3 separate regions of the Homo sapiens genome follow, and regions 2 and 3 are each linked to region 1. The links come from fine-mapping of genetic effects on gene expression. A gene starts in region 1. Each other region holds a variant in brackets. All regions are shown on one strand. Distances are between the middles of the regions.

Region 1 (2,766 bases):
CAATTTCTAGCTAGATATTTCATCTATAAACTGCACTTAGCCAGCCTTATGCTGAACTTTGTAAGGGTTTTGTAATAATAAACTGTTCTTGACTGAAACACAAGCCTTTCATAATTACATGCCACAGTGCAATTCTTATGCAACGAGCTTGTGTTTTTCCAAATTTAGGACCAAGCATGTAGTTTTATCAGTTAGCTGGGATTTGGTCTTGTTTTCCCTTGATTCTGTAAGTGGTAGTTCTAACTTTGAAATGGGTCATCTAACTTATAACTATTTTCTTCATTTCTTTTTAAAAGGGAGAAATAGCATGCAAATTTCTGGCATGTTGATAGAAAGTTCAGCATTTTTTCCCTGACATGAAATATTTCATTTAGAATGCGTATGTTTCCTCTACGTATAAGGTTTCCTAGAGTCAGATATGATAAAAACAAACTCTGAGATGTATATACCTATGTTCCTACAAGTGTAAAACCTGAATGATGTCTCTGGAAATGGAGCCTCGGAGTGACCAGGAACACAAATACTTATATGTCACAGAAATAGAGGGGCACATACTTTGAAATATTTCAATGGAAATCAAAAATTGTAGTTTACTGGATTGAAATTAGTATCCTCTACTTAAACATTTTTGACACAAACTCAATGCTGATTCAGATCTGTAATCCATGTAGCTCATAATAACTTACTTGGTAGAAGTATTTCAGATTAATGAATTGTACAATTGTACAAATTAATAAATTGTACAATTGTTCAACTATACAATTAATTGTACAATTTGTATAGTTGAAAAAATCTATAAATTAATTTATAGATAAATTATCAAAGAAGACAACATTTTAAATAGTTATTCCCAATATTTTTTCTTCCATAATTAAAATAAAAGTAAGTATCTCAGCAATTGCTTGTTCTTAAAATTTCACTGCTATCTCAGCAGTCATGTAAGTTATTCTGGCTATTTAATTTTTCACTTTTGTTTGCATACTGTAACAGTTGGTAGGATAATTAATTTTGATTGTACATTTCCATTGAACTTTTGATGAAATTGTTTCACTCTTTTTATTAGAATAAAATTATTAGGAAAGTCTTCTAAAGAGAGGTTTTCTGTTTGTTTTTCCTTTGAGGAAGGTAGAGAGATGGGAAACGAAGACACCAAATATAAAGTCATTCCTCTATCTCTCATTTTAAAACCTGTTTTAAAGGTTGTAGCTAGTCAGGAAAACTGAAAAATCAACTGGTATTCCTAACTAAAGCAGGGCTTTGAAACTCTGCTACTAGCGACAGGGTTGGGAAAATTCCGGTTGCTCTTCTTGTCTGTGATATACGGTAGAAGGGTTGGTCCTGGTTTGGTCCACCTGCCAGCGGAGTTTAAAGTTTCCGAGGCTCAGAGGAACACAATGACTTGGATCAAACAGCCTAAATGGGAAGAAGGACATTTTTGCTGCATCAAGGAAGCCGTTAAACTCCTGCTAAGCTAACTAGCTCTTTTTTATGGGTCCATGCACACGACCGAACTCCTCTTTCACTGACCAGAGATTATTTCTGACAACCCAGGATATCCCGAAAGCTTGGAGGCATATGGCTGGAAAATGAAACGACCCAGGACATCGTTTCTGGCTGCATCATTATTTTGTGTCGCGTAGTACCAGATGGGCAGTCAGTGAGCGGCGCAGGGATGTGAACGGACGGTTTTATAATGTGAAAATTTTCCCTTGGTAAAGCTAAAACAGATTTAATTTCCCTCTCTTTTCTTTCACTACTTCCCCCTCTTTATTCCCCCTCTGTCTGCAATATCAGTGAACTCAACTTTGCAGTGAGGTGGCCAAAAAGAGAGAGAATGAGGAGATCTTGATCATCTTAGTGTCGGAGGAGTCGCAGCGGACTGGGAACTGCAGCTGCGACCCCCCGCGTCCTGTGCGGATTTCAGGGCTGATACCGCATAGGCGGTTATGGAAAGGACGGTACACCGGAGCGGCGGAGGATAGAGACCCTGGCCCCCGGAGAGGTCTGCTGATTTCGCAGCAGCCTTCGAAGCCGTGGCTGCCTTTCATCTGCTGCGTTTTATTACTATTATCGCCGTTCCGGAAAAGTCATGGAAGACAGCCCGCTGCCAGACCTCAGAGACATCGAGCTGAAGCTGGGGCGCAAAGTACCCGAGAGTCTAGTGCGCTCTCTCCGTGGGGAGGAGCCGGTTCCCAGGGAAAGGGACAGGGACCCCTGCGGGGGGAGCGGTGGTGGTGGCGGCGGCGGCGGCGGCTGCAGTAGCAGCAGCAGCTACTGCAGCTTCCCTCCCTCCTTGTCGTCCTCCTCTTCGTCCTCCCCAACCTCTGGCTCCCCACGAGGTAGCCACTCTAGCGCCCTGGAGAGGCTAGAAACCAAGCTTCACCTCCTCAGGCAAGAGATGGTGAGTGTGGTGCGCCAGCCGCGGGGGCTGGGACCTGGGCTGGGCCAAAAGATGGGGCGATCTGAGAATGGGGCTGGGAGAGAGGACGGCAGGGGCTGCAGAGCGGAGCGCTGGGCGCGTGGGAAATGCTGGGTGGAGGAATGAGCAGGGGGCGCTCATCCGGAGGCAGCTGCTGCGAGGCTTGTTTACCGCGGACTTTGCTCGGTCACGGTTTGCAAAGACAGCACAGTCGGCTGGCTCCACTCTGTGTACTTTCGGACAACGCGACTCACTGCGCCGGGCTCTATTTAGCTGCCAGCCCGTAGCCTCTTAGGCACCAGCCCGTTGAGAGTTTGCAGTTATTGCACCCATCTAAGGCCTGCTGT
Region 2 (2,766 bases), 440 kb before region 1:
AACAAAACTGTCTTTATCCTTTTACTCAATATAAAAAGCCAAATAAAGCAAAACAATGCTTATAGAGGGCTGAAGGATAGGGCAGAGATTTCTGATCCCAAACTTAACTTATGGCTTAACATCTCTATTATGTGTAAGGGAAGCAAAAAATGTAATATGAGATATGCAAGAGTGCAGGGAGGAGCCAAGATGGCCGAATAGGAACAGCTCCGGTCTACAGCTCCCAGCGTGAGCGACACAGAAGACGGGTGATTTCTGCATTTCCATCTGAGGTACCGGGTTCATCTCACTAAGGAGTGCCAGACAGTGGGCGCAGGTCAGTGGGTGCGCGCACCGTGCGGGAGCCTAAGCAGGGTGACGCATTGCCTCACTCGGGAAGCGCAAGGGGTCAGGGAGTTCCCTTTCCTAGTCAAAGAAAGGCGTGACTGACGGCACCTGGAAAATCCGGTCACTCCCACCGGAACACTGCGCTTTTCCGACAGGCTTAAAAAACGGCGCACCACGAGATTCTATCCCGCACGTGGCTCGGAGGGTCCTATGCCCATGGAGTCTCGGAGTCTCGCTGACTGCTAGCACAGCAGTCTGAGATCAAACTGCAAGGCGGCAGCCAGGCTGGGGGAGGGGCGCCCGCCATTGCCCAGGCTTGCTTAGGTAAACAAAGCAGCCGGGAAGCTCCAACTGGGTGGAGCCCACCACAGCTCAAGGAGGCCTGCCTGCCTCTGTAGGCTCCACCTCTGGGGGCAGGGCACAGACAAACAAAAAGACAGCAGTAACCTCTGCAGAGTTAAATGTCCCTGTCTGACAGCTTTGAAGAGAGCAGTGGTTCTCCCAGCACACAGCTGGAGATCTGAGAACGGGCAGACTGCCTCCTCAAGTGGGTCCCTGGCCCCTGACCCCCGAGCAGCCTAACTGGGAGGCACCCCCCAGCAGGAGCACACCGACACCTCACACGGCAGGGTACTCCAACAGACCTGCAGCTGAGGGTCCTGTCTGTTAGAAGGAAAACTAACAAACAGAAAGGACATCCACACCAAACACCCATCTGTAAATCACCATCATCAAAGACCAAAAGTAGATAAAACCACAAAGATGGGGAAAAAACAGAACAGAAAAACTGGAAACTCTGAAAAGCAGAGCGCCTCTCCTCCTCCAAAGGAACGCTGTTCCTCACCAGCAACGGAACAAAGCTGGATGGAGAACAACTTTGACAAGCTGAGAGAAGAAGTCTTCAGACAATCAAATTACTCTGAGCTACGGGAGGACAT[T/C]CAAACCAAAGGCAAAGAAGTTGAAAACTTTGAAAAAAATTTAGAAGAATGTATAACTAGAATAACCAATATAGAGAAGTGCTTAAAGGAGCTGATGGAGCTGAAAACCAAGGCTCGAGAACTACGTGAAGAATGCAGAAGCCTCAGGAGCCGATGCAATCAACTGGAAGAAAGGGTATCAGCGATGGAAAATGAAATGAATGAAATGAAGCGAGAAGGGAAGTTTAGAGAAAAAAGAATAAAAAGTAATGAGCAAAGCCTCCAAGAAATATGGGACTATGTGAAAAGACCAAATCCACGTCTGATTGGTGTACCTAAAAGTGACGGGGAGAATGGAACCAAGTTGGAAAACACTCTGCAGGATATTATCCAGGAGAACTTCCCCAATCTAGCAAGGCAGGCCAACGTTCAGATTGAGGAAATACAGAGAACACCACAAAGATACTCCTCGAGAAGAGCAACTCCAAGACACATAATTGTCAGATTCACCAAAGTTGAAATGAAGGAAAAAATGTTAAGGGCAGCCAGAGAGAAAGGTCGGGTTACCCTCAAAGGGAAGACCATCAGACTAACAGTGGATCTCTTGGCAGAAACCCTACAAGCCAGAAGAGAGTGGGGGCCAATATTCAACATTCTTAAAGACAAGAATTTTCAACCCAGAATTTCATATCCAGCCAAACTAAGCTTCATAAGTGAAGGAGAAATAAAATCCTTTACAGACAAGCAAATGCTGAGAGATTTTGTCACCACCAGGCCTGCCCTAAAAGAGCTCCTGAAGAAGCGCTAAACATGGAAAGGAACAACGGGTACCAGCCGCTGCAAAATCATGCCAAAATGTAAAGACCATCGAGACTAGGAAGAAACTGCATCAACTAACGAGCAAAATAACCAGCTAACATCATAATGACAGGATCAAATTCACACATAACAATGTTAACTTTAAATGTAAATGGACTAAATGCTCCAATTAAAAGACACAGACTGGCAAATTGGATAAAGAGTCAAGACCCATCAGTGTGCTGTATTCAGGAAACCCATCTCATGTGCAGAGACACACATAGGCTCAAAATAAAAGGATGGAGGAAGATCTACCAAGCAAATGGAAAACAAAAAAAGGCAGGGGTTGCAATCCTAGTCTCTGATAAAACAGACTTTAAACCAATAAAGATCAAAAGAGACAAAGAAGGCCATTACATAATGGTAAAGGGATCAATTCAACAAGAAGAGCTAACTATCCTAAATATATATATGCACCCAATACAGGAGCACCCAGATTCAAAAAGCAAGTCCTGAGTGACCTACAAAGAGACTTAGACTCCCACACATTAATAATGGGAGACTTTAACACCCCACTGTCAACATTAGACAGATCAACAAGACAGAAAGTCAACAAGGATACCTAGGAATTGAACTCAGCTCTGCACCAAGCTGACCTAATAGACATCTACAGAACTCTCCACCCCAAATCAACAGAATATACATTTTTTTCAGCACCACACAA
Region 3 (2,766 bases), 100 kb before region 1:
TTTTTTAAAGGCTTTACCAATGTTGCAGTCAAAAAGTAACATCTAAAATTATCTTTATTGATTATGAGATTGCATAGATTTTCTTAAATTCATTGGTAAACTCTATTTATTCAACCTGTCTTTGCAAAAATTTTTCCTATTAGTCAATTGATAGTATCTCTCATGGATTTGTAAGTGCAATTTGTGTGCTTTTGTCTGTAATTTTTATAAATAATTTCCCTTTAATAAAAAGGCTTTGTATTGGAAAAGTGTTTGCCTATTTATGTCAAATATTCACCTCTTTTTTAATATTTACATTTTACATGAACTATTTTAATCTACTTTTCTTATCAATATAATAAACAAAATAAATATCTAACTTGATTTTCTTCTATATTGTTACCATCAACGCAGGAGCAGCATCAAAAACTTATCTCTAATGTTACTGTAGATATATATATATTTTTTCTATTTCCTGTCTCATTGCATTAGGTAGAACTTCTAAAACAATGTTCATAGTAGCGGTTATCCATGCTGGCCTCATCTTAATTTTAATAAAAATTACTGAAATGTTTCACTTTTAACTACAGTGGTAGCTGTTGACTTAAATATGCAGTTTTTACTGAAGTTAAAGAAAAATTCTGTTCTAAGCTCGAGTATATTTTTACCAAAAACAGGTATTAGATTTTCCTAAATGTCTTTTTAAGCATTTACTAAGAACTCCACAATACCTCTTACTTTTACTTATTGATAGAATATATTAATCATTTTCCTAAAATTAAATTCCCATTTGCATATACTAAATGAATTATTTATTAAAATTTATGTAGTTCAATATGCTGCTGGAATTTATTTGCTGCTATTTTATTTTGGATGTTTTTGTACCTATATTCCTACATGAGATGGTTCTGTAGTTTTGTTTTTAAGTGCTATCTGTATGTGCTTTTGGGATTAGGGTTTTCAGAGTTTTATGAAATACATTTGGAAGAATTTAGCATTTTCCTGTGATCTACTGCAATTTAAAATGCTAATGGTCTTCATTGATCCTAATTACTGTGTGAACTTAAGTGCATCTTGCCATTTATAGATGGAAAATGTCTGAAACTATTTGTTATAATAGTGAAATTCTATGTGGCCTAGTTCCATGGTAGATAGAAAAGAATTGGGAGTAGGATTAACCTAATTTTTCTTACACATTCCTAAGAATCTTAAAGG[C/T]TATCAGAGTACTGAGATTTGTCATCAAATTGAGACGCAAAACATTATTTTGTATGGCACAGAGCTCAGTCTCAGAAAACTACGCTTACTGCAGTCATATATTTACGTAAAATTTTTTATTTACATTGAATAGAAGGTTTATCTGTAATGTATACCCAAACAGACATCAAATAAGACATAATTAACACAGTGTAGATTTTACACCTGCCTTTCCCTGCCAACATAATATTTGTTTTTATTATTTTATGTTTTTTTGTCACTGTCCTCAACATTGTAACACTTCCAGTCTAGAGTTATATACAGTGAATTTATTTTTCAGTTTTAAAAATAATGGTTTTACCATATTCGTTTTAAACAACTAATATGGGTTGTATATCTTATAGTTGTTCCTCAGCATTAATTAATCTCCAGAAGTTAAGGCTGTGAATATATAATTAATGAACAATGTGAAGGTGAGATGTCATTTAAGCAGTTGGCAGATTGTCTTTAAAATTAATAATCTGTTTCTCCAACTGTTTGCACTTATTTCAAGGTGCTACTTTCTTCTTGATGCCTTTTTTTCACTTTTTTCCTGTTTTATTGATATGTAATCTTTTGCACATTTATGAGGTGTACATGAGTGTTTGGTACATGCATAGAATATACAATGATCAAGCCAGGGTATCTAGGGTATCGATCACCTTGAGTGTTTATCATTTTTAAATGTTGGCATCATTTCAAGTCATCTGTTGCAGTTACTTTAAAATACACATAATATTGCTGCTAAGTATAGTACCCTAGTCTGCTGTCAAACATTAAAACGTATTTCTTTTAATTAACTGTATGTTTGTATCCATAACTAATGATCATCCCTAGTCTCTCCCACCCACCCTTCCCAGTCTCTGGTATTTATCATTCTATTCTCTATGTCCATGAGATCAAGTCACATGTGGAGGATAAAAAACTTAGTGACTTTAAGTCTTAAGTAACTATTCATGGGATAGGCTCTGATTGCGTGCCTGGCTATGGCATAAAAAACTTAATTAGAAAAGAGGAGACATGGTGCTCTTAAATTTATGAGAATACATTTTCAAAGTTTAAACTGGTGACTTTCAAACTTCTGAGGAAAGGAAAATACTGCCTTCTTTGTATCGAAAGTCATGGGTTGCTCGTACATATGCGTACGTACATGACTGATGTCACTTGGCTCAATGAACAATGCTAAGTTATCAAGCATCCATGAGAACTGCATTTGTGGAATTCATTCAGTTATTTTCGTTCGTATATATTTCTTTGGCATTTTCTCCAATTCTTAAAAAGTAGAATAGTTTTAATTTTCTTACATTGGAACTTCTCTAACTTGGTCAACATGATTAATTCCTTTTATGTCTTTTGAACCTCAGTTTCTTTATACGTAAAGAGGTTCAGCTGGATTAGATGTTCTCTGAGATCTGACCCCTGTGCAACATACTACAATTTGTAGTTAGAAGATATTGGCACTGCAGATCTCATTAAGGACCTGAATAAGACTTCAAGTTTATGTATTTGCCTGCATTTATATAGATATATATTTTACATAACTAATTCATTTAA

The links. PIP is the estimated chance that this variant, and not a neighbour inherited with it, causes the effect. A credible set is the group of variants that fine-mapping cannot tell apart.
Region 2: its variant is the best candidate, but not a certain one, in a credible set for the expression of LURAP1L in sun-exposed skin (GTEx, PIP 0.59).
Region 3: its variant is the best candidate, but not a certain one, in a credible set for the expression of LURAP1L in tibial artery (GTEx, PIP 0.83).

The regions. Positions count from the first base shown.
Region 1 is chr9:12,773,627-12,776,392 of GRCh38, forward strand. LURAP1L (leucine rich adaptor protein 1 like) reads left to right here and starts at 1,394. Exons shown (of 2, transcript NM_203403.2): 1 at 1,394-2,401. The coding sequence starts at 2,090. All of the region lies in intron 2 of LURAP1L-AS1 (LURAP1L antisense RNA 1), which reads right to left.
Region 2 is chr9:12,333,819-12,336,584 of GRCh38, forward strand. No RefSeq gene overlaps it. Among named protein-coding and RNA genes, the nearest start is that of TYRP1, 360 kb to the right of the region's middle. RefSeq lists an enhancer at 509-1,142. The variant T/C (reference allele first, on the strand shown) is at 1,266.
Region 3 is chr9:12,672,930-12,675,695 of GRCh38, forward strand. No RefSeq gene overlaps it. Among named protein-coding and RNA genes, the nearest start is that of TYRP1, 19 kb to the right of the region's middle. RefSeq lists enhancers at 2,263-2,407, 2,283-2,427 and cis regulatory regions at 2,335, 2,355. The variant C/T (reference allele first, on the strand shown) is at 1,195.